Linked DNA regions of Homo sapiens. The protein of the gene in region 3 purifies or fractionates together with the protein of the main gene of each other region. This does not show direct contact. Each region holds a gene or a part of one and is shown on either strand. Other genes may lie near its edges.

Evidence for each region.
Region 1: the proteins of FBL (region 3) and DCAF13 purify together in Homo sapiens (affinity purification with western blotting; 3 studies listed by BioGRID, with this or other methods). This does not show direct contact.
Region 2: the proteins of FBL (region 3) and UTP15 purify together in Homo sapiens (affinity purification with mass spectrometry; 4 studies listed by BioGRID and IntAct, with this or other methods). This does not show direct contact.
Region 4: the proteins of FBL (region 3) and RECQL4 purify together in Homo sapiens (affinity purification with mass spectrometry; 4 studies listed by BioGRID and IntAct, with this or other methods). This does not show direct contact.
Region 5: the proteins of FBL (region 3) and NOL8 purify together in Homo sapiens (affinity purification with mass spectrometry; 3 studies listed by BioGRID and IntAct, with this or other methods). This does not show direct contact.
Region 6: the proteins of FBL (region 3) and ZNF324 purify together in Homo sapiens (affinity purification with mass spectrometry; 3 studies listed by BioGRID and IntAct, with this or other methods). This does not show direct contact.
Region 7: the proteins of FBL (region 3) and WDR75 purify together in Homo sapiens (affinity purification with mass spectrometry; 3 studies listed by BioGRID and IntAct, with this or other methods). This does not show direct contact.

What each region holds. Positions count from the first base shown.
Region 1 is NC_000008.11:103,428,886-103,432,385, reverse strand, and holds part of DCAF13 (DDB1- and CUL4-associated factor 13), read right to left. Parts: intron 1,775-3,500; coding exon 1,697-1,774; intron 1-1,696. UniProt on the Homo sapiens protein: Part of the small subunit (SSU) processome, first precursor of the small eukaryotic ribosomal subunit.
Region 2 is NC_000005.10:73,572,243-73,575,742, reverse strand, and holds part of UTP15 (U3 small nucleolar RNA-associated protein 15 homolog), read right to left. Parts: intron 3,255-3,500; coding exon 3,119-3,254; intron 1-3,118. UniProt on the Homo sapiens protein: Ribosome biogenesis factor. Involved in nucleolar processing of pre-18S ribosomal RNA. Required for optimal pre-ribosomal RNA transcription by RNA polymerase I.
Region 3 is NC_000019.10:39,839,880-39,843,379, forward strand, and holds part of FBL (rRNA 2'-O-methyltransferase fibrillarin), read right to left. Parts: intron 909-3,500; coding exon 738-908; intron 637-737; coding exon 535-636; intron 449-534; coding exon 354-448; intron 1-353.
Region 4 is NC_000008.11:144,510,788-144,514,833, forward strand, and holds the end of RECQL4 (ATP-dependent DNA helicase Q4), read right to left. Parts: intron 3,739-4,046; coding exon 3,655-3,738; intron 3,576-3,654; coding exon 3,402-3,575; intron 3,321-3,401; coding exon 3,141-3,320; intron 2,926-3,140; coding exon 2,784-2,925; intron 2,694-2,783; coding exon 2,431-2,693; intron 2,352-2,430; coding exon 2,060-2,351; coding exon of another isoform or gene 1,985-2,059; coding exon 1,855-1,984; intron 1,775-1,854; coding exon 1,605-1,774; intron 1,538-1,604; coding exon 1,357-1,537; intron 1,281-1,356; coding exon 1,124-1,280; coding exon of another isoform or gene 1,115-1,123; intron 1,003-1,114; coding exon 894-1,002; intron 769-893; coding exon 644-768; 3' UTR 501-643; downstream 1-500. Other genes in the region: SLC33A2 (major facilitator superfamily domain-containing protein 3), read left to right, coding at 7-377. UniProt on the Homo sapiens protein: An ATP-dependent DNA helicase which unwinds dsDNA with a 3'-overhang in a 3'-5' direction. Does not unwind more than 18 bp of dsDNA. May modulate chromosome segregation. The N-terminal domain (residues 1-54) binds DNA Y-shaped DNA better than ss- or dsDNA.
Region 5 is NC_000009.12:92,296,858-92,299,104, forward strand, and holds the end of NOL8 (nucleolar protein 8), read right to left. Parts: intron 2,098-2,247; coding exon 2,027-2,097; intron 1,480-2,026; coding exon 1,400-1,479; intron 1,030-1,399; coding exon 979-1,029; 3' UTR 501-978; downstream 1-500. UniProt on the Homo sapiens protein: Plays an essential role in the survival of diffuse-type gastric cancer cells. Acts as a nucleolar anchoring protein for DDX47. May be involved in regulation of gene expression at the post-transcriptional level or in ribosome biogenesis in cancer cells.
Region 6 is NC_000019.10:58,470,080-58,473,007, reverse strand, and holds part of ZNF324 (zinc finger protein 324A), read right to left. Parts: intron 2,278-2,928; coding exon 854-2,277; 3' UTR 1-853. UniProt on the Homo sapiens protein: May be involved in transcriptional regulation. May be involved in regulation of cell proliferation.
Region 7 is NC_000002.12:189,444,474-189,447,973, reverse strand, and holds part of WDR75 (WD repeat-containing protein 75), read right to left. Parts: intron 1-3,500. UniProt on the Homo sapiens protein: Ribosome biogenesis factor. Part of the small subunit (SSU) processome, first precursor of the small eukaryotic ribosomal subunit.

The DNA.
Region 1 (3,500 bases), on a different chromosome or scaffold from region 3:
GTAACAAATGACTAAGTATCAAATTAGGGGCAAAATTAATGGTGAGCTTAGGGTTAACATAAAGAACTGTTTCTAAAGACAAGTATGATTTGAACTGACCTGTGAAGGATCAGTAATTCAGTGTTTCTCAATGGGAACACTGTTGGCATTTTGAGCAGGATTATCTTTTGTTGTGTATGACTATCCACTGTAGGATGTTTTGCCACTCAGGGACCTCCCACTACATGTCCCTCTTGCATTCCCAGAACTGTACCTGGTAGGGGACTACAATCCCTGACTAAGAACTACTACATTTATGAGAGAAAGGATAAAAGAAACATTGATAGACTAGTAGATGGAGCAAAGAAGCAACAGAAAGTAGCAGTGTCTAACAATCCCTACATCTATCAAAGTGACCTGCATGTGACAAACTCCAATTCAATGTTACCTAACTGACTAAAAGAAATAAATGAGTTGCAAATTAGAACCAGATTTCAGAGCACCTTGAAAGCCAGGCTACATTTTCTTCAACCTAAAATTAATGGAGCTCCATTAAAAACTGAGAATGTGCAAAGCAGGAGGCAATAACAATGAAAAATAAACTAAATTAAAAAAAAAACAGAATGAGTGTTAGGTAGGTGGGAGGGGGCAGAAATGACTATTCATTAAACTAGTACCTCATGTCAGCATTCTGCTAAATGCTTAAAGTATCATGTTTTATTCTCAGCGAAGTGCTGCGAGATAGTTATTAATACCACCACCTTACAGGAGAAACACATTTTAGGTTAACGTGCTTAAAAGTCTAAGACCAAAGTTCATATAGGATCTTCCCATTAAATCACATGAATGAGTGAAATCATATAAGTGGTACTTTGGAAAGATTATCATATTTATCTACTTCAAACTTCAATGAATGTACTCTCCTAATATCTAGTTGTTACGTTATAAAAATGATTTAGGAATAACAAAAGCAAGTATTAAAAGCATTTCTTTTGTATGTGGACTACGACAACAGACTTGTGGCATCTCAATGATGTCCAGCCCTTTCTGTCACTCAAAATTCTAGTACCTGAAATAAACTTTATACCCTTTTACTTACAATGGCACTCCTTTCCTTACTTACAGACAGTATCTGTCTCCCTCTTGAGAGTTAGCTTAAGTTGTATTATTAGCTCTGATATGTAAGTCCTGAAATTACTACTTTAGAATTGTTAGGAAATCTGTTACTTTGAACAGGATAGTGGTTGCCTAAATGTCAAACTAGTATTGATCAGCATGTAACTGAACAAATAAAGCTGGTTACGTGAATGAGTTCTAAAACCTTCTGGAATAAAATAGTGTACATGTCATACGATAATCATGGGGCTTGAATTTATTGAATATTATTTGAATATTATTACACTGTTAAGTAACAGGATGCAATACCTTTAAGAACTTTCAATTCAGTAAGTATTAATTAGAGGCCTAAAATGTACTGGCATCATGGAAGACACAAGGTTGGTGACTAGGATACAATACCTAGCAGAAATTTAAGAGTCTCTAAAAAGCAATAGGGAGCTGAAAGAACATGACTATCATCATGTAGAGTTCTAAGAACACCTGTATAAAAGATTTTTTTAATTCTGAGAAAATATTTGCTCCATATTGTTAGTCACTCTATTTACAGAGAAATATATAATGCCAACTGTATAAAGCAAAAGTCAAAACTGAAACTCACCTTTTTCAAAGGAGTAGCTTGCCTCATATCGTACAGTACTATATTCCTGTCAGATGCACAACTTCCCAAGAGAAATGTCTAAAAACAAGTATAACAATCACCAGTTCAAAGCCAGACCTGGCAGCAAACCACATCCATTCAGTAAACAAATGATTTAATTGCCCTTAATATTTATGTTAAAAAACAAAGTCCATTTTAAGAGGGTACAATAAATCATCCATAATCTCAGCAACTTAAACCAAGTATTTTCACTGTAAAATCCTCATGCTTGTATTTTATTTATTTATTTATTTATTTAGAGACAGAGTCTTGCTCTGTCACCCAGGCTGGAGTGCAGTGGTGCAATCTTGGCTCACTGCAACCTCTACCTCCCAGGTTCAAGCAATTCTCATGCCTCAGCCTGTGGAGGAGCTGGGATTACAGGGGTGCGCCACCACACCGGGCTAATATTTTGTATTTTTAGAAGAGACAGGGTTTCACCATGTTGCCCAGGCTGGTATCAAACTCCTGACCTCAGGTGAGCCACCTGCCTCAGCCTCCCAAAGTGCTGGGATTACAGGCATGAGCCACCGCACCTGGCCCCCATGCATGTATTTTAATGTACAGATATTACTGTGTTCTAATTTGTAATAAAACATATTTTACTTACCTACTCTTCAACTTAAGACTTGTTTCCTGTTTTTTACTATTATAAGTAATACTTCAATAAACATTTCCCCCCCACGTAGTTCTTCTTTTGAATTATTTCCTTAGGATAAAATTTCACAAATGACATTACTGAATCAAAAGGTATGAACAATTTTATGGCTTTTGATATTTAGGGCTAATTATTTTTCCAAAGAGCTGTACCAGTATACACTACAATGTGGGATATGTCCATTTTAATGCAACTGGGCAGCACTGGGTAGTGTCATTTAAAAGTGTCATTTAAAATATCTGTATGACAGTATTTCCTAGCTATATAAATTTATTGTTTTATTAGTAAATGTTTCTTCGTGTTGTTAACTCTCTATAAATTAGGCCTGTCTTTTGTCCAACTGTTTGAAGATTTTTCTAATTATTTTATTTGTAAGTCAATTATAAATGTGCATGGTACTCACATAACCCCTTGGCATTAAGTAAAAATAAGCCCTCTATCATCCAGTGGATCCCTGAAACCCTCTCTCTGTAGCATCATTCCTCCTCACTCATGGTTCCTGACACTCACAACTATTGGCTTCTGCCTACAATTACTTCCTATTGCAAGTATGTGGGCAGCAAGAAGAGCTATTTACTAAATAGTTGCATGGCCAGCTAACTCCTCCTACTGTCTGTACGCAATTCAAATAACACATCATAAAGCTAATGTTATGATCATGATTTCCTCTCAGTTCTTTCTGAAAGCCTGCTATCTTAATGGCTGCTTTTCTGAGACTTCCCTAGTGAGGTCCCTCAACCTTTCTTGGCTTCTCATTATGTCGCCTCAGGGTCTGACCAGGTTCCATTTCTAAAAAGAAAGACTTTGATCTGAACAAAGCAAAACAATCTACCTAGACCAAATGCCACCTTTCACACTGTAAAACGTCCCAATGATCAGCATAAACTTTTGGCTTTACCAGAATTCTAGGCTTCAATATTTTAAGAGAAAATTAATTATTAATGATTAGAGGAGACAAATACAAATACACTCCATTTGTTCACAGCAACATGCCCTTTCCATTAAGTTTAAAACAGGATAAGAGACACACACACCATTTACTTTTACCACTAAGTTCATAAGGTTAATAGCAATTAAAAAAAAAAACAGCTGAACAAATACAGCTGC
Region 2 (3,500 bases), on a different chromosome or scaffold from region 3:
CTTAAAAAAAAAAAAAGAAAAAATTATCAATGAAAGCACATCACAAAGCCAAGTGTGATGGCTCACACCTGTAATCCCAGCACTCTGGGAGGCCAAGGACAGCAGATTGTTTGAGCCCAGGAGTTCAAGACCAGCCTGGGCAACTTGAAGAAACCCTGTCTCTAAAAAAATAAATTAAAAAAAAAAAAAGAAAGAAAGAAAGTACACATGAAGCCAAAGATCAGGGATTCTCAACCTCAGAATTACTGTCATTTTGGGGCACAGAATTCTTTTTTGTGGGGGTTGTTCTGTGCATTGTAGGATGTTTAGCAGCCTTCCTGGCCTCTATCCCCTATATGGTAAGTACCATGAGTTGTGATAAAAAACAATACTTTCTCAAGATATTGTCAAACGTTCCTTGAGGAACAAAAATCACTCTTGGTTGAAACCACCACAAATAGAGCCAATTTACACTTAGCTTTTAGGAACATACCTAAGAATCAAGTCCCAAATTGCCGAGTAACATGATTTCAGTAACATGTGTAAACTTGCCATGTATTTACATAAAAAATTCCTTTGTATTAAAAATATTTTCTAGCTTTTAAAATATGTACAGTCAATCCTTCTTATGGCAGGTTCCACATCTGCAGATTCAACCAACCATGGATTGAAAATATCCATAAATATATAAACAATACAGAATTTTAAAATACAGTGTAACAACTATTTACATAGCATTTGCATTGTATTAGGTATTACAAATAAGCAAGCCATGATTTAAAGTATACAGTGGATGTGTGTAGGTTATATGCAAATATGCCATTTTAAATAAGGGACTTGGGCATCCACAACCAATTCTCCTCAGTTACCAAGAGATGACTGTATACTTTTTAATTAACATGCTGAAAACTAAAGTTTTTCATAAGAGCAGAAAAAAATGAAAATATGGAAATAAAATAATAAAAAATAGATCATGTAAGCCGGGCACGGTGGCTCACGCCAGTAATCCAGCACTTTGGGAGGCTGAGGTGGGAGGATCTGTTGAACTCAGGAGTTTGAGACCAGCCTCGGCAACATGGCAAAACCCCATCTCAACAAAAATACAAAAATGAGTCAGGTACAGTGGCGCGTGCCGGTGGTCCCAGCTACTGAGGAAGCTGAGGCGAGGGGATCGCTCGAAGCCAGGAGGTGGAGGTTGCAGTCAGCCAAGATCATGCCACTGCCCTCCAGCCTGGGCGACAGAGCAAAACCCTGTCTCAAAAAAAAAAAAAATTAATAATAAATCATGTAAATTCTAGAACTGTGCCATACTTCTAGCTGCACATGGCTACTGACCACTTGAAATGTGGCTAGTGAAAATGAGAAACTAAATTTTTTATTTTATCTAATTTTAATTTAAAAACTGAGACAGTAATTTTTATAAAATATTATCTTTTTTTTTTTAGAGACAGGGTATCACTGTAACCCAGGATAGAGTACAGTGGTACTATCACAGCTCACTGCAACCTCAAACTCCGGCTTAAGTGCTTCTCCTGCCTCAGCCTCCCTAGTAGCTATGATTAAAGGTGTGTACCACTGTGGCCAGCTAATTTTTTTAATTTTTTGTAGAGATGGGGTCTCACTATATTCCCTAGGCTGGTCTCAAACTCCTGGCCTCAAGTGATCCTCCCACCTCAGCCTCCCAAAGCACTGGGATTACAGGTGTAAGCCACTGTACCAACCTAAAATATGATTATTGTATCATAGTGCACATGTTTAGATGCTTAATTTATTTCTAGTATCTTAATAATTTTGACATAGATTACATACTGAAATTATATTTTATATGTAATATATATTTTATTTTTACATTAGATATTAGGCTAAATAAAATGTGCTATCTAACTTTTAGGTCAGGCGTGGTGGCTCATGCCTGTAATCCCAGCACTTTGGGAGGCCAAGGTGAGTGGATCACCTGAAGTCAGAAGTTCCAGACCAGCCTGGCCATCACGGCGAAACTCTGTCTCTACTAAAAATACAAAAATTAGCCGGGCAAGGTGGCAAGCGCCTATAATCCCAGCCACTCAGGAAGCTGAGGCAGAATCGCTTGAACCCGGGAAGCAGAGGTTGCAGTGAGCTGAGATCCCACCACTGCACTCCAGCCTGGGCAACAGAGCGAGATGTCATCTCAAAAAAAAAAAAAAAATTAATTTATCTAATTTTTAAAAAACTTTTCAGGCCAGGCACAGTGGCTCACACCTGTAATCCCAGCACTTTGGGAGGGCGTGGTGGGCAGACCACACGAGGCCAGAAGTTCGAGACCAGTCTGGGCAATATGGCGAAACCCCGTCTCTACTAAAAATACAAAAATTAGCCAGGCATGGTGCTGCACACCTGTAATCCCAGCTACTTGGGAGGCTGGGTCACGAGAATCGCTTGAACCTGGGAGACAGAGGTTGCAGTAAGCCCAGATTGTGCCACTGCACACCAGCCTGGGCAACAGAACAAGACTCTGTCTCAAAAAAAAAAAAAAAAACTTCAAAATATATGAATGTACAATAATGATTTTAAAAGATGGTTTATAGAATAACATTATTTGAAAGATTATCATTCAAATGGTTCAATAATGTTGTTTAAGTATACAAGTTAAAACAAATTGTGTCAAAGGAGAAAATAAGTAGCTATGGGTGGCCGGGTGTGGTGGCTCACGCCTGTAATCCCAGCACTTTGGGAGGCTGAGGTGGGCGGATCACGAGGTCAGGAGTTCAAGACCTGCCTGACCAACATGGTGAAACTCCGTCTCTACTAAAAATAAAAAACTTAGCCGGGCATTGTGGCGCGTGCCTGTTATCCCAGCTACTCAGGAGGCTGAGGCAGGAGAACCACTTGAACCTGGGAGGCGGAGGTTGCAGCGAGCCGAGATTGCACCACTGCACTCCAGCCTAGGTGACAGAGTGAGACTCTGTCTCAAAAAAAAAGAAAAGAAAAGAAGTAGCTATATGTAAACAAAAGGTCAAAACTATTTTCAACTCAACAGGTTTTTTTCTCCTGGAAATCATTATCTGTATACTTATCACAAATATTGCTGAAATAACTCATTTCCTCAAGCAGTAAACAGGTGTACACTAATAATAATATACAAAAAAATTAAAATGCCAACCTATCCAGTGAGCCAGAGAGTAACCTCTGTCCAGAGCTGCTTAGACATAAACATGTCACGGTTTTGTGATGATTTTTCAAAGATACTAGCAATTGTCCTCCTTTTAACATGTCCCAGACTTTAACATAACGACCTCCTATAAAAAGAAATCATCGTTAGTTGGATATTCTGCCCACAGATTCAACATATTAAAGATCTGAAAAGCATTCTTCTCTGGACACTCCACAAAGCATGGAGGCTGAGTGAGGGAGTCCAGGCCAGGCTGCCTGGTAAAATCCTGGATGCACCACTTCCTGGGTCATTGGTAATAACAGTTCCTACCTCACAGAACTGTTATGACCATTAAATAATATTTGTGAAGTGTACATAAATTCCAGCAAAA
Region 3 (3,500 bases):
CTGGAGAAGCAGATGATAAGGACGCAGCCTCCCACAGAGCTGGGAGTGGGAACAGCAAGGCCAGGGTGGCTGGAGGACACTTGGTCAGAGAGTTAGTGAAGGAGACAAAGCCAGGGGGCAGGGAGGGGGAACTGGAATGCACAGGGTCTTGGAGGCCTGAGTGAAGACTCAGGAGTCTAACTGGAAGGCCGTGGGGAGTCACAGAAGGCGGATGAGGGAGCAGACAGTGTGGTTTACATATTATGACAATCCTCCAGCTGTCACGTGCAGGACACATGGTGAGGGCAGACACAGACTACTGGCTACACCCTCAGCTGCGACCCTGGTGGCTTGGACAGGGGCCCAGTTCTCACCGAAATCGAGACTCTCTTCTCTCCATAAACTGATTCCCCAGGGACCAGGTTCTTGGTGACCAGTGCATCTTCCTTTCCTCGACAAATGAAGACACCTGGGTGAGGGGATCAGAGCAGGGGTGAGGACCCCCAGCCTCTCCCTGCCCCGAAGCTCAGCCGGCTCCCTGCCTTCCTCACTCACCCTCATGCCGATGCGGCTCCACCATCACATTCTTCCCCGACTGGTTTCCTCTTTTTCCTCCCCGACCACGACCCCGGTTGCCACCAGAATGGAAGCCTCCACCTATAAAGGAGAGGTACAACAGGAGAGAAAGATCCTGAATCTCCGCCCTCCCCACTCCCCACCTCAGGAAGGCCTCCTCTGTAACCCCTAGCCAATCTTACCACCTCTTCCTCCTCCTCCACCGCCGCCGCCGCCTCCACCTCCTCCTCGTCCACGACCTCTAAAGCCTCCGCCTCGACCTCGGCCCCCGCCAAAGCCCCCTCGGCCTCCACGACCACCACGGTCACCAAAGCCCCCTCGGCCGCCAAAGCCACCCCCACGGGGACTGAATCCTGTGGGGGAAACAAAACAGGAGTCAGGGCAATGAAGCTTAAAAGGTTAAACCACCTTGTACCCAGCAATACCTCTCAGGTGAGAAACCTGAAATACATGTGCCCGTGTACAGCAGGACACATTTCCAAGAATGTCCACAGCAAAAGAAAAGTGAAGACTAACCCAAATGTCCATCAATAGAATGGGCAAATAAAATAGAAGACATTCACAATCAAGATCATGAAAATGACCTTCAGTTATACACAACAGACTAATAAATGTTAAAATCATAATAATTTTTTTTGCTTAGTGCTTTTTTTTTGAGACAGGGTCTTGCTGTGCCGCCCAGGTTGGAGAGCAATGGCACAATCACAGCTCACCGCAGCCTCGAACTCCTGGGCTCAAGCAATTCTCCTGCCTCGGTCTCTGAAGTAGCTAGATTACAGGTGTGTGCCACTACTCCCATAGTGTAGAGATGGGGGTCTCACTATGTTGCCCAGGCTAGTCTCCAGCTCCTGGCTCAAGTGATCCTCCTGCCTTGGCCTCCTGAAGTGCTGGGATTACAGGTGTCAGGCACCACACCCAGCCACAATCATACTGCCCAAGAAAAGGAGCAAGGGAATGAGAAATGTAAAACTCATGATATTGGTGAATGGGAAGGAGATATTAATATGGGGTTGGGATAGGGGAGGAGTACATGAATAGATGTAGGTTACTGTTAATATCCTGGTTTCCTTGGTTGCATAGCAGATTCACAGAATTCATTCCATGTCAATATTAATTACTGTGAAGAGTGAGCCCTGCATACGAGCACATGCTGTGACAACAGGGCCCCCTAGACTCTGCAAACGTCTTCATACTCTCCCACTCCTGACCTTGGAGCTGGAAGAAAAGTGTCAACCCCAGCCCCAAAACAGAGGGGAATACAGGATGATGTCAGCCCTAACTCATCTCCCTGCTTCCAAGCTTAAAGAAGTCCCTCTCAGCTCAGGGGAAAAACAAGAAAAAGCAGAACAAACTGTCATTTAAGGATAGGCTGCACTTTACAAGTAGTTTGCGACTTGTCAGTAAGATCGAAATGTTTAAGAAATAACAGACTCAGACAGGCTTTATTCTTACCAGTTCAGGACAACAAACACCATTAGCACAAAACAACGTTTAAAACAGAACTCTGGTGCTAACAGATTCAATATTTTCTCTGATTTGGTTTCAAAAACTCAGAAGTACTAAATCACACAAGTTAAAAAAAATAGTTGGAAAACTAGTGGTTTAAAATTATCTCACATTCTCACATGATGTAATCTATTCAATCATAAGCTTGCTTTTTTTTTTTTTTGAGACGGAGTCTCACTCTGTCACCCAGGCTGGAGTGCAGTGACACGATCTCGGCTCACTGCAAGCTCCACCTCCCAGGTTCACGCCTTTCTCCTGCCTCAGCCTCCCCAGTAGCTGGGACTACAGGCGCCCACCACCATGCCCGGCTAATTTTTTTGTATTTTTAGTAGAGAAGGGGTTTCACCGTGTTAGCCAGGATGGTCTCAATCTCCTGACCTCTTGATCCGCCCGCCTCAGCCTCCCAAAGTGCTGGGATTACAGGCGTGAGCCAGCGCGCCCAGCCTTGCTCATGTTTTTTGTAAAGATACATTATGATCTTGTCCTACGAACCCTTCATGCACCTTAATGGTATTAAAGATAAAAAATGTGTCTTTTAACAGCCATTCCTAATTTAATCTTTAAAAATGAACGGTTTCATTTTCAAAACTCCCAAACAACCAAAAGTTGTTTACTTTTAATCTTCTACTCCCTCTACAGTCCACTTTTCACACAGCAGCTAATACATGCTATTTTTAAAACAGCAAGTAAGATCTCATCATGCCCTTGCCCAAATCCCTCCAATGGTTTTCCACCACATCCAAAATGAAATAAAAAGTCCTTTCCCTGGCTTACAAAGCCTGAAATCAAAGCCTAAAATCTTTAGGCTTTAAATTCTGATTTCATTGTTCTGGGCGCAAGGTCTTCCCCTAAAGCTCTCCAGGTGACTCCAAGGTGCAGCCCACATTGAGTATCATCATCCTAAGGATCTGGCCTGTGCTGACTTCCCTGACTTCATTCTCTTTATGCTGGGCCCCATGCTCTTCCCCACCAAGCATACACAGTCCAGCTTCTAAATCTTTACCACGTGCTGTTCCCACTGCCTGGCTCCTGCAGACATGTGCATGGCTCACTCGCTCCTTCACTGCATTCTGGTCTCTGATAAAATGTTAGTTCCCCAGAAGGGCCTACTTTGGCCACAGTACCCTTACCCTGCTTTATTTCCCTTCAAATCAATTATCACACATGGCATTTTTAATATTATTACCACCTGCCTCCCCCACTAAGATCAAGCTCCAAATGGGCAGGGATTTTTAACTGTTTTGGTCACCACCGCATCCCCAAAACCCTGCACAACATCTGGCACAAAGTATGGGCTCAATAAATGTTAAATGAGCACTGAGCTGATGACTCTTAAACCCTGGGCCCTGCCTCAAGGAGAAAGCACCCTCTATTTGTTCAGAAAGCACACAATCCATCAGATGGTGACCAGGGAAGTGCCGGTCACTCCCCTCAAGTAT
Region 4 (4,046 bases), on a different chromosome or scaffold from region 3:
TCCCAGGGTCAGCCTTGCTGAGCCTATGTCTGCAGCACTTCTTGGGAGGCCTGGTCACCACAGTCACCTTCACTGGGATGATGCGCTGCAGCCAGCTGGCCCCCAGGGCCCTGCAGGTGAGTAGATGTAGCAGGGACACAAGAGAGACCACGGGGCTGGGGCTGTGTGGGCCTGACCTTGACCGTGACCCCCACCCCCCTCAGGCCACACACTACAGCCTTCTGGCCACGCTGGAGCTGCTGGGGAAGCTGCTGCTGGGCACTCTGGCCGGAGGCCTGGCTGATGGGTTGGGGCCACATCCCTGCTTCTTGCTCCTGCTCATCCTCTCTGCCTTTCCCGTTCTGTACCTGGACCTAGCACCCAGCACCTTTCTCTGAGCTGAGTGGCTGGAGTGGTCAATAAAGCCACATGTGCCTGTGGCCCAGATGTCTCTGTGCCTGGAATATGTGATGTGCTTGTCCCCAGCTTGTGGGGGTTGCCTCATTGGCCAAGAGGGCCCATAAAAACAAAGTGAGCATTTTTTATTCTGCATTTTGGAGCCTCCTCGTTCCCACACCCTGTGGCAGGTTTTGCCCAGGTCCTCAGTCACTGCCCTAGCCTCTGACAACCCCAGCTCTACCCGACATCCCCCAATGCAGTGCAGTCAGCGGGCCACCTGCAGGAGCTCTTCCGTGGCCAGGCCCACCAGGGCATGGAAGCTCAGGTGCAGGTATTTTCTCCAGAAGCGTCGGTCCTGCCCGTACACCTGGGCCGGGTAGCAGGGGCTTCCTACGGTGGAGCCAAGACACAGCCGTGAGCCCCAGCCCCAGCCTGCAGCGGGTGGAGCCTCCCAGGCCTCACCTGCCCCAGCCCCCAGCCCCAGCCTGCAGCGGGTGGGGCCTCCCAGGCCTCACCGATGCCGTGGAAGATGCGGGCCACAGCCCTGCTGGAGAACTTCTCCTCTGGCCTCAGGGACAGGAACTGGCGGATGTCGCAGCGGACCTGGTCCTCCCAATCCTGGAGCTGTGTGGACAGGCACATCAGGCTTCCTCTGAGCTCCCGTGGCACTGCATCCACAGAGCAAGCCCCATGCAGCCCAGGGAACCTGCAACCCCGATGAGCTGCCTGGCCTTACTGCACTCACTCTGGCCTGCCCTGGCTCGGGGCCCTGTGCGTCCTCCATGCCTCCCGGCTCCTGCCCTTCCTCTTCCTCAAAGTAGCGGCCGAGCAGGTCCTTGAGCCTGGTGCTGCGCTCCTCATCCTGCTGCTCCAGGCAGGGCCCGCAGCTGGGGAAGGCTACGCTGTGGGGAGGAGCCTGTCAGAGCTGATCACTGCGGGAGGGTGGATGGTCCCAGGCCCCGCCCGCCTCCTCCCAACCTGTGAAAGGCCTGGAAGGTTCTGCGCAGACGGGCCAGGGCCTGGCGCTCCCGGGCCTGCACACGGCCATAGAGGAAGTCACATATCTGGTCCTTCTCCTCAGCGGTCAAGTCCCCCGGGCTGCGAAGGTGGAAGGCCAGCTCACTGAACTCCACAAGCACCCCTGTCCCACGCCGCACACCTGCCGGAAAGCATGTCAGATGCAGGCAGGCAGCGTCCAGGGCGGTGTGGGGTGGGGAGAGGCGCACCTGTCCTGGGCTCGTGGTCCCACTGCAGCTGGCAGAGAGCCCGCCGCACAGAGGCCAGCTCCCAGCCCATGGAGTCCACCAGCTTGACCATGTCAAACTCCACGGAGCTGCTGCCTTGCCCTGGGTCCTCAGGCAGCTGCTGGGCCAAGCACACAGCCAAAGGGGGACACCTGTGCCCAGGGAAAAAGGGACATGTGGCCAACAGCCCTGATTCTCCAACCTCGTCTCCAACTGGGCAGGGCGTGCTTACCTGTGGGCCAGGGCCTGGAGCTGGGCAGGGCCCCCAGGGCAGTTCAGACGGCAATGGGTATAGGTGGTCGCCAGCAGCTCCAGCCAGTGGTGTGGGTGCAGCTCCAGGTAGCACAGCAAAGTCTCGATGGCTGGGGGCAGAGCAGGGCTCAGCGGACGCGGGGACAGCCCCTCCACACCCCTGTGGCTTACCCCAGGTTCCTCACCCTCCTCCGGCATGTCCAAAGCCTGTACGGTAAGCTGTATTGGGAGTGCCCGCTCATGGCCCATGCAGACCCTTCTGGGTCCTGGGGCTGCTTGGTGGCTAAGCTGCTCAGCCTCTTGAGGGGGGTACTTGGGCACAGGCCTCTCCCCACCCACGGCCCCTTCCTGCTCCGAGGGCGGCCTGGTGCAGGTGCAGGTGCAGGCTGGGAACACGCGCTGTACCAGCCTCTTCACAGCCAGGAAGTCCGTGCTGTCGGCGTGCACATGTCTGCGCAGCTCTCGCAGGTCTTCGCCCTGCAGGGCAACTTTCATGAGGGTGGGGTGGACCACTGGGGGCTCGAGCACTGGCAGTGTGGGGGGGGGGGGTGCCAACCTGGGGCTGCAGGAAGAGGTGGCAGTGGGCAGGCTGCCCGTCACGCCCGGCCCGGCCCACGGCCTGCACGTAGCTCTCGAAGCTTGGGGGCAGCCCCAGATGCAGCACAGCCCGCACATCTGGCCGGTCCAGCCCCATCCCAAAGGCCACCGTGGCCACCACCACCCGCAACTGGCCCTGCATGAAGGCTCGCTGTACCCGCCGCCGTTCCCGGCTGCACATGCCCGCGTGGTAGGCCTCGGCTGTGGTTTTGGGGGCACGACCTTTGGGGAAGACAGGCAGATGGTCAGTGGGATGGGACCATGTGTGCCCAAGGTGGGTCCACGGGGACACCAGCTCTGTCCATGCCGCACCTCCAGACCCTGGGACCCAGGCTGCGTGCAGGCAGGTTCGGAGGAGCGCAGCGATCCGCTCTGTGTCCTCGCGCCGGTTGCAGTAAATGATAATGGAATCGAGGTTTTGAAAACGTTTGCCTTGCAGCAGCGTCAACAGTGCCTGATGAGGAGCGGTTGGCGTGGGCAGTGGGGAGTGAGGAGGGGTCGGCGTGTGCAGTGGGGAGTGAGGAGGGGTCGGCGTGGGGAGTGAGGAGGGGTCGGCGTGGGCGGTGGGGAGTGAGAAGGGGTCGGCGTGGGCGGTGGGGAGTGAGGAGGGGTCGGCGTGGGCAGTCAGCAGCCAGGGCCCTGCAGGGTCCCCAGAGCACACACACCCACCTGGTCTGTGTCCCTGTCCATGGACACGGAAAGGTGCAGGTTGGTGGGAACTGGGGCTGGCCCGTGGAGGTCAGGCTCTTCAGCCACAGCCAGGTGCTGTGCCACGTCACTGGCAGTGCGGCGTGTGGCTGTGGCTGTGAGGCCCAGGAAGCAGTGCACGCCCATGCGCTCCCGAAGCACCTGCACCAGAGGCGGCAGTGGTGTGAGGCCGCCCAGCCCATCCCGGCCCTGGCCGCCCACCCCAGTTCACATATGGCTCACCTTGCAGACGCGCAGGTAGCAGGGCCGGAAGTTGTGGGACCACTGGGAGAGGCAGTGGGCCTCATCAATGCAGGCAAAAGCAACTGGAGGCAGCTGTGCGGCTGGAGGGAGGCCTCCCGCCCCCACCAGTGCCTCAGGTGTCAGCATCAGCACGTGTACCTGGGCTGCCCGAATCTGAAGGCAGCAAGATCAGAGGCACAGCCCAGGTGCCCGCCCGCTGCCTCCCTCACCCCTAGGCCCATGAGGCCCCCACCTTCTGCAGGACAGATTCCCGTTGCTTCCTGGTCATGCCCGAGTGTATGCAGGCCGCCTTGAGACACGGTGGCAGGCCAGACACCTGCAAATGCAGGAGCGACAGCCGTCATACGCCAGCCCAGCCCTGGCCCTTCCCCAAGTCATCCCAGAGCTGCTGCCATGTCCATCCTAGTCCCTCAGGGGAGAGGAGAACCAGGTCCTGGGTCCTAGGGCTAAGGGTTTAGAGCCACCTGTGGGCCTTGGCCCAGGAGCCCCAGAGCAGACAGACTGAAGTAGGGATGGCTCCTTTCCCAGCACATTTCCCGTAGGGGTGGCTGTGGTGCCTGTGGAGCTGGGCTGCCTTTGACCTGCTGCCAAGACTGGGACTGAGGCCACAGACACCTTGAAGCT
Region 5 (2,247 bases), on a different chromosome or scaffold from region 3:
AGCCACCACACCCAGCTAATTTTTGCATTTTTAGTAGAGATGGGGTTTCACCATGTTGGCCAGGCTGGTCTTGAAATCCTGACCTCCTCATGATCCGCCCGCCTTGGCCTCCCAAAGTACTGAGATTACAGGTGTGCGCCATCACGCCCGGCCTATGTAATACTATTTCATACAGAGCCCATTTTGATAGGAGACGTATGTCTTGAAATCTAGGCAGGTTGGTTTATTTAATGTAATGTTAAATCTGTTTCCCTATTTGGGCTCAGGGTCCTGACTCCTAATTGTGACTACCTATCTTTCAGGCACTTGGTATTTTTCATAAGCTTTTAGTCTAACTAGAATTTTGGGATTGGTGTACATCTAGATGTTGTTCCTTAATTCCTAGAGGCAATGACAAGATAACTGTATTTGGCTTCCTCTCCTGGTCCTCACAGAACTCTTATATGATGTTGGTCTGAAATGTCCTATATTTCAGTTAACCATTCACCAAAACACAAGTATAAAACTCAATGTTGACTTGTAATTTATCAGTTTAAACAAAAATGACAAAATGGAAGGTGTATTTGACATAATCAGAAATAAAATTTCAAATAGCCTATAATTCACACAAAGCCTAGGCTGGAAAATACAAGTGCTTTGACTCATTTATTTAAAAAGGCTTCATATAAACCTTGCATGAGAAGATGTCCATTAGTTACTCAGGATAGAGGGCAAAGAGATTATATACAAAAAGTATTTTCAAGGACTATCTTGTTCTTCCTTTATAAGAAGTTGAATTTAATTTTTGAAGTAATTACTTAGGAAGAAATGCAGAGGAGTTCCACAGAAAAAGATGGCAACCAGAATGATATTCCGTCAGCCAGATTTTTAAAATTCCTTCACTCTGAAATTTCTTCTTTGTCAGCTAAAACTGTTTTCTGGGTCAGTTTCCTTAGGTGAGCCTTGTTCACATTCAGTATCAAAACCAGCTGACATTTATTATTTTGGTTTCATTTTCCTTTTTGCGTCTTTATGTTTCTTTCGACAATCCTAGGAAAAAAAAAAGACTTGGTTAGCAATAAACAAATTGTTTTTAAGATGTTCAGTAGATAGAAGTAAAACAGGTTATTCTCACTGTCAGGGCTGTGGAAACCTATTTTGAAAGTGCTCTTTTGAAATGAAGAGGGGATATTGGCATTTTTGGCATTAACTGTTTATAATGGGAACTATAATTCAGTCTTTAAAAATCTGATGCTTTCGTGTTACTTAATAGGCTTGGCTGGATTCTGAGACCAGTCACTCAATTGAGCCAGTCTGCAGTCTCCTCACCTATACCATTCATGAGTTCCCTTCCAGGACTGTAATTCTAGATAGGTAACATGTCTATTTTAGGAAATAATATGGAGAAACAATTACTCACCATACGCAGGTTGGTTGTTCTGGCCTCCCAAGAGTTCCTGCTCATATTACTTCCTACTCCTCTCCAGAATAAGTCAGAACCTATTAGGGGAAAAAGAAGAAAGATGAGGCAGCAAACTACTACTAAAATTGGTAATATTCTAAGTGTTGGCATTATCAAGGTCTCGAATACCAGTTAAGATCATTCTTTTCCCTCAGTTTCTACCTATTTTCAAAAATTAGTATTTTTTCTTTCCAAATGAAAAATATAATATTGCTTTTACTGTTTATATATATCATTTACTATTATGTAACTTTGTTTATGCTAGGCTTTAAGAAATGAGCTCCCCAACAGCCTGAGTTTTCACATGGAATTTATGGCACTAAAACTTAGGGGTTTTATATGTCTAACATCTAAGGAAGCCCTTGGAACAAAACAACCCTTTGTTGATGAGAATGAGCGGGCAAAGAAAGTGGTGAGTGGGGAGCTCTCAGACCTTGACAGCTTTACAAGTTAACATTCATCAGTGTGAACAAATGGGGTTAAACCACATGACATTACCAACGGTCAAAATTCCTGGATGTGAATTACTGTAGCTGTATTATTACCTGTTCTATGTATGTAATTTGATGAAAAAAATGGACTGACCTTGAAGTCGTTCATCATTCTTAGAGAAAAAGAAAAATCTAGTGGTCTCTTTCTCAAGTAATGATGCTTCTCTGAAAAGAAAGGGACAAAGGAGAGAGAAAAATAGGTATTGGTTGGTTTAATTTCAATATTTAAGAAGAAATATTTACATTCAAAACATAAATACACTATTTCTTAAATATATCTTTTTTCATTTCCCCCTAGAATCCAGGTGAGCGAGA
Region 6 (2,928 bases), about 19 Mb from region 3:
CGAGTGCCACCGGAAAGCCATCATCCTAGCTCTGTCCTTCCAATGCTGAGAGTCACATGTTCCCCCATGGGCATCCCTCTCCTGAGTCGGCTATGTGTGTGAAGCCAGGCCAGGCCGTGTGCCTCAGTTTCCTCATCTTCCAAGTCGGGATACCAGCCACAGAGCCATCTCACAGGGCTTCAGGAGAAACTTCCCAGTACTCAGGACAGGAGCTGGCAGTGAGCATGTGTTGGCTCTCATTAGGACCCCACCTGTCAGCGTCTACAAACATGATGTTCAGTGGACCCAAACCTTTTCTCTTTCCCAGAGGTGGCGGCTGACAGAGCCCAGACCCTGATCCCCAGTCCCTTGTGGTCTCTTGTCTGCTAGGCTGGCCCCTAGGAAGTCTTGGATGAACAGAGGCAGTGGGTTGAGGGGAGAATACCCTCAGCGGGCATCTCTCCAGCGGCCAGTTTGTGTACAGCTGTCATAAGTTTCTCTGGGCCACCCCCAACCCATGCCTGCATCCCTCTCACCTTAGCATCCACTGTCATATCACATGAAGCCGCACCACAGTGCAGTGCTGTGACTGTCGGCCTCCTACTGGCTCTGAATAGTCTCGGCCCCACTAGAGTTCAGCCACCACGTCCTCCCCCTGATGTTGCTGCAGTGCTACCTCTTTGGGGATGGAGGTGTGATCTGTGGGTGAACTGGCAAATCCTGTCCCCACGTGCAAATGAAATCACAGCCAAAGGGCCTCCCTTGTCCCTGACTAGCAAGCACGGGACTTTTTCTCTGCTGTGGATCTGCAGAGGACATATGCCCTTTAGCTGTGGAAGGGATTCACAGAAGGCCAGGGCTGCAACCTGTGACCTCAGACCTCCGCTGGCTGCGAGACGGCGGCTGGGCCCGAGGCGGGAGTGGGCTCGGTTTCCTTCGCTGGCGCACCTTCTGATGATGCCCCGGCAACAGACCTGGCCTGGGGGTGCAGGCTGGCCCTGGATCGCCGGACGGTCTTCTCGCCGGTATGGATCCTCTGGTGGTGGAAGAGGGCCGGGCGCTCACGGAAGGCGCGGCCACACTGCGTACACACGAAGGGCTTCTCGCCCGTGTGAATGCGCCGGTGGCTGAGCAGCACGGCGCCCTTGGCGAAGGCCTTGCCACAGTCCACGCAGCGGAAGGGCCGCTCGCCCGTGTGCAGGAGCTGGTGCTGGGTGAGGTTGGAGCTGTGGCTAAAGGCGCGGCCGCACTGTGGGCAGGCGAAGGGCTTCTCGCCTGTGTGCACGCGCTGGTGCTTAAAGAGCGAGGAGCCCTGGCTGAAGGCAGCACCGCAGAGCGCGCACACGAAGGGCTTCTCGCCTGTGTGCGTACGCTCGTGCTGGATCAGGTGCGAGTTGCGGCAGAAGCGGCGGCCACACTGTGCGCAAGCATAAGGACGCCCACCCGCGTGGATCTTGCGGTGCTGGCTGAGGTTGGAGCCGTGGCTGAAGGCCTTGCCGCACTCGGAGCAGCGGAAGGACTTCTCGGCCGTGTGGATGCGCTGGTGCCGCACCAGCGAGGAGCTATGCCGGAAGGCCTTGCCGCACACGGGGCACGCGTAGGGCGTCTCGCCGCTGTGGATGCGCTGGTGCTGCGTCAAGTGCGACGTCTGGCTGAAGGCCTTGCCGCACTGGGCGCACTCGTAGGGCCGCTCCCCGGTGTGGGTGCGTAGGTGCTTGAGGAGGTCGGAGCTCTTCACGAACACTTTGCTGCACGCCCTGCATTCGAAGGACTTCTCCCCAGCGTGAAGAGCCTCGCCCAGCTCGTCCCAGGTCGAGGGCTCCTGGCCACCGAGGAGTCTATGAGGCTCCTGCCAAACTGCACCCATTCGGTGATGTCCCCGACCGCCGGCAGCCTCCAGGTCCTGGGCGCTCCCAAAGGTTCTCCCAGGGACCTCCTGTGCACATGGTTTCTGCCGCTCAGGCGTCCTGGGCTGCCTCCCCAGCAACGCATGCTCTGTGAGTGTCTTTTCTCTAAGCCGGACGCCCTCGGGAGGCCTAAGCGGGGAGGTCAGTCGCAGGCTGACGCTGGCTTGCCCACTGCCTGAGCCTAGCAGGAGCCTCTCCCAGTAGATCACCGACACCCCCGTGGGTTTTCTCTCCCGAGATGGGGAGGCACCCCGTTGTCTCTGCAGGCTTTTTACACTGTGGCAGGCACCGGCAACAGGGAAGACGCTAGTAGTCATCCCAGGTGGGGTATCTGGGAAAGCTCGTGGCCATTCTCCAGAAACATCTCTATCCTCTGTCAAACTCCAGGAACCTAAAGGCAGAGAAACAGTGGTTGCCTGGGGCATCCTGGTTAGGAGAGGACCAGGGCAGGCTGAGTGGACAGGCAAGAAGGAACCCCGGAGCTGGCACAAAAGCTTAGGGGAAAAGTAGAGGTGAGGCTGGCCCTGCAGGAGGGGCTGGGGTTTGGAGGAACAATCTGCCCTGATAGGTATGGCACTGACTACACTGGGCACTCCCATGATCAAGGTGGCAGCCCCCCGACACCCAGGATGTGAAGCTGAGGAAAACTAGCGGCTGCTGTATGCTGCATACATCTCCACACTGGCTATTCCACCCACACTCTTTCCATTGCTTACCCCCTTCCCCCCGCCCCTGTCCCCCTTCTCAGGCACCCACTCCCCAACCTGCTCCTGCAATGACCTCCATCCAGTGCTCTAGACTATACTCCTGAATCCTGCTTACCGACTGCCTCTCCCACCACACCATGAGCCCCAGAAAAGCAGGACCAGGGTCGTCCTGATTGAGGCTGTGTCTACATTGCCTGGACTGGGCCTGACCACTGTGAGCACTCAGGAAATGTTTGCTGAACACAAAGATGAAGGGTGAAAAAAATGACCCATCAATTATGGCAGTGACTAGCCATGGAGGGTTTGAGGCCAGCCCAGCTGATAGCAGGACTCTG
Region 7 (3,500 bases), on a different chromosome or scaffold from region 3:
GGGAAACTGCCCCCATGATTCAGTTATCTCCAATTGGGTCCCTCCCACATGTGGAAATTATGGGAGCTACAATTCAAAATGAGATTTGGGTGGGGACACAGCCAAACCATATCACATACTCAATAGGTAGTAGGATCTTTTTATTGTCCATGATAAAAATGCAACAGACATTTCTTTTGGTATAGTTTAAGAATTGTATACTCAAATTTGTGTGCCTTTTGTCTATGGGGACATCTATGACCAATCAGTTCATTAACTCAGAAGAGATTATTAACTCAGAAAAGATTAATGATGCCAATATCATATCTCTTGACTGTTTGTAGACAGAGGCTATAAATGGAATTATCCTGCAAAAACAGCCAGCTTAACCAAGTTGCCTGCTCATTAAATGGATGCAGACACTGTACTAGTCACTATCAACTATTACTCTTCAATAGTACTGCCAACAGCAGTGTTTTTCCATGTCCCCAACATCTCCATGGTTCACTGGCAACACCAGCTTACAAATGGTAAGTCAAAGGTTCTGCTCCAGTTGGTGAGGTCTGGGCCTTTTGTACAGAAAAATACAAAGACTTTATTCCATTTTTGTTTCTTGTTGCTGAAATGCTAGCTTTGCTTTGTCTTTCTGGATTTGTGGATTTCTTCCATGTAGCAGCAGCTACTAAATTACTAAAAGTGGTTAAGCTACTTGGGGCACTGTTTGACTACTTTCACGATATTATCACAGAACAAGGCGCAGAAATATAAATCTTCTTGTATCTTCCAAGTAAAAAGTATTTGCTCTGTGTCTATTATATTCATAGCAGTACTCTCTTATTTATGGTTTCACTTTCCCTGGTTTTAATTACCTACAGTCAAGATCAATCTGAAAATATTAAATGGAAAATTCCAGAAACAATTCATAAGTTTAAAATTGTATGCCATTCTCAGTAGTGAATTCCCTTGTCTCACCTGAGACATGAATCATTCCTTTTTCCAGCATTCTCTGCTGTAGACACACCTGCCCGTTAGTCACGTAGAAACTGTCTAGTTTATCCTATCCACTATTGCTGTACTGAAGTACTTATGTTCAAGTAACCCTTATTTTACTTAATAATGGCCCCAAAGTATAAGGGTAGTGATGCTGACATATTGTTATAATTGTTCTATTTTATTAGTTATTGATGTTAATCTCTGTGCCTGATTTATAACTTAAACTTTATCATAGGTATGTATGTATAGGAAAACATTTACTATATAGAGTGTCTGGTATTACCTGTGGTTCTAGGCATCCACTGAGGGTCCTGGAACATATCCTCTGTGGACAAGGGAGAGCTACTGTATTACAACACACTAAATTTGTTGCAAACTGGGACCACTACTATCCTATTTTATTAGTTCAAGACACTTGATTTTCACTTGTTCATCTCTTTGAAATTAGAATGCATCTTATAATCAATGGTCTCTTGTAAGTGCTGTCAGCCAGGAGGCATGGTTGTATGAAATGGTATAAGATCAAGAATGTATGAGCAACAAAGCATTTGCGATATATAACCTGCCCTTTGGCTGGAGCCTCTTCTCCATTCCCATGAGTACTTCAGTTCAGAAGCTTAACATCTCCAGCCTGGGCCACTCTTCAGGGCTTCCTACAGTCTCCAGGTACAGTCCTTCAATGCAGCTTTCACAGTCACACCAGACTAATTTTGCAAATTTGACCATATTACTTGCTCAGATAAAGCTAAAATCCTTCACTGTTTTCCCTCTGACTTTAGGAAATGATCTAAATTCTTAAGGCTTTGGTAGTCTGATCCCAGTCTAACTTGAACTACTTTTTCACTTAACACTGTGCTCTATTAAAATAGTTCATAACTCCAACAATTTCCCCCATCCCCCAGACACACCCTATCAATATGAAGAGGTCCTTTAGATATGGCTTCCTTGAGACAGTGGTGGGTAGGGGGCTACTGTTGGCCAAGAAAACTTTCCCTAATTGATTCTGATAAGCTTCCTCAGAAAAAAGGAATATCCTCTCTTCTTGTTTCTCAGCATAGAACAATGGCTTCAATTACTTAAACGCAACCCTTCAAAGTCAACTTTCTCTCCATGGTTTTGCACTCTCTGCTATCTACATAGAACACGTTTTCTAATTACTTCTTTTTTATTTCCTAAGAGTAAGCTTATTTTTTAACTTTTAATTTTGAAATAATTTTAGATTTACAGAAGAATTACAGAGTTCCTGCATACGCTTCACCTAGCTTCCACAAATGTTAGCACTTTACATAAGCACAGCATGTTAGTCAAAACTAAGATATTAACACTGGTACATGACTATTGACTACATAATTTATTTGGAGCTCTTCACTTTTTCCATTAATGTCTTTTTTATGTTCCTAGACCCCAGTCCAGCATACCACCTTAGTTGTCATATCTTCTCAGAACCTTCCAATCAGTGACAGTTTTTCAGTCTTTCCCATTTCTCAGAACTCTTGACTACTGCTTTAAGATTCAGCTCAGAATTTTCTCCCGGAAGCCCTTCCTCATCTTCTCATTCTAGATCAGCACCCGTCCTAATGTGCTTCTACACGACGGTGGGCTTAGCTCCATCACAGAACTTACCACAAGGCATTAAGACTGTCTGTGTACTATGTTTCTCCTCTACCAGACTGTGAGTCTTTGAGGTGAGACACTGTGTTTTCACTTATTAGAAACAATAATAAGTCAAACACAAATGGATTCGAATGTCAGCTTTATTATGTATTAGCTGAATGATGTTGGAGAATTTACTTAACCTCTTTAAACTTCACATCTCCACTTACAGTTAGCCACTGTAAAATGTAAATAACACGTTCTCATAGAGTTTAAGTGAAACATTGCATGCAAATACAAGCTTAGCATACACAGCAAGCACTCACTCAATAGGGATAATACCTTAACCTTGTAGACTGGAAGGTGTGTAATGCACCCACCACAACACCTGTCACATAGGATTCATCTTTGTTGAGAAAGTGAAGAAGTAAGAAATTAGGGATGTTTCAAGTCGGAACCAAGATTTAAACTAGACTCTGAAGGATGTATGATTTAAGGGGTGGGAAGAAAAAATAGCAACATAAGCAAGAGCAAGGAAATGGTATGATTATATACAAGACACAGATAATGTACTTATCTGACAAGCAAAGTGTCTATAATGGGTAGTATCAGGAAACAGTTGGGTAGGAAGAGTTGAGCTATATCAGAGAAGGGATTGAAAGCCATATAGAGGAGCTATAGTTAAGGAGGCAACAAAAAACTGTTAAAAAGTTCAGAGCAAGACTAGAAATAAGAGTTAGAGTAATAATGTTATAACAGTAACAACTTAGGAAAATTGTTACAGCAGCAATACTCAGAATGATCTGTAAGGGAAAAATACTGAGTTTGGGACATTAGCTTGTGGGCAATTTAGGAAAGTGAAAGGCAAGGATGACTCATTGTTTCAGTTTTCTCTACCCTAACAACCCCAGTGCAATAATTCACAGCACCATATA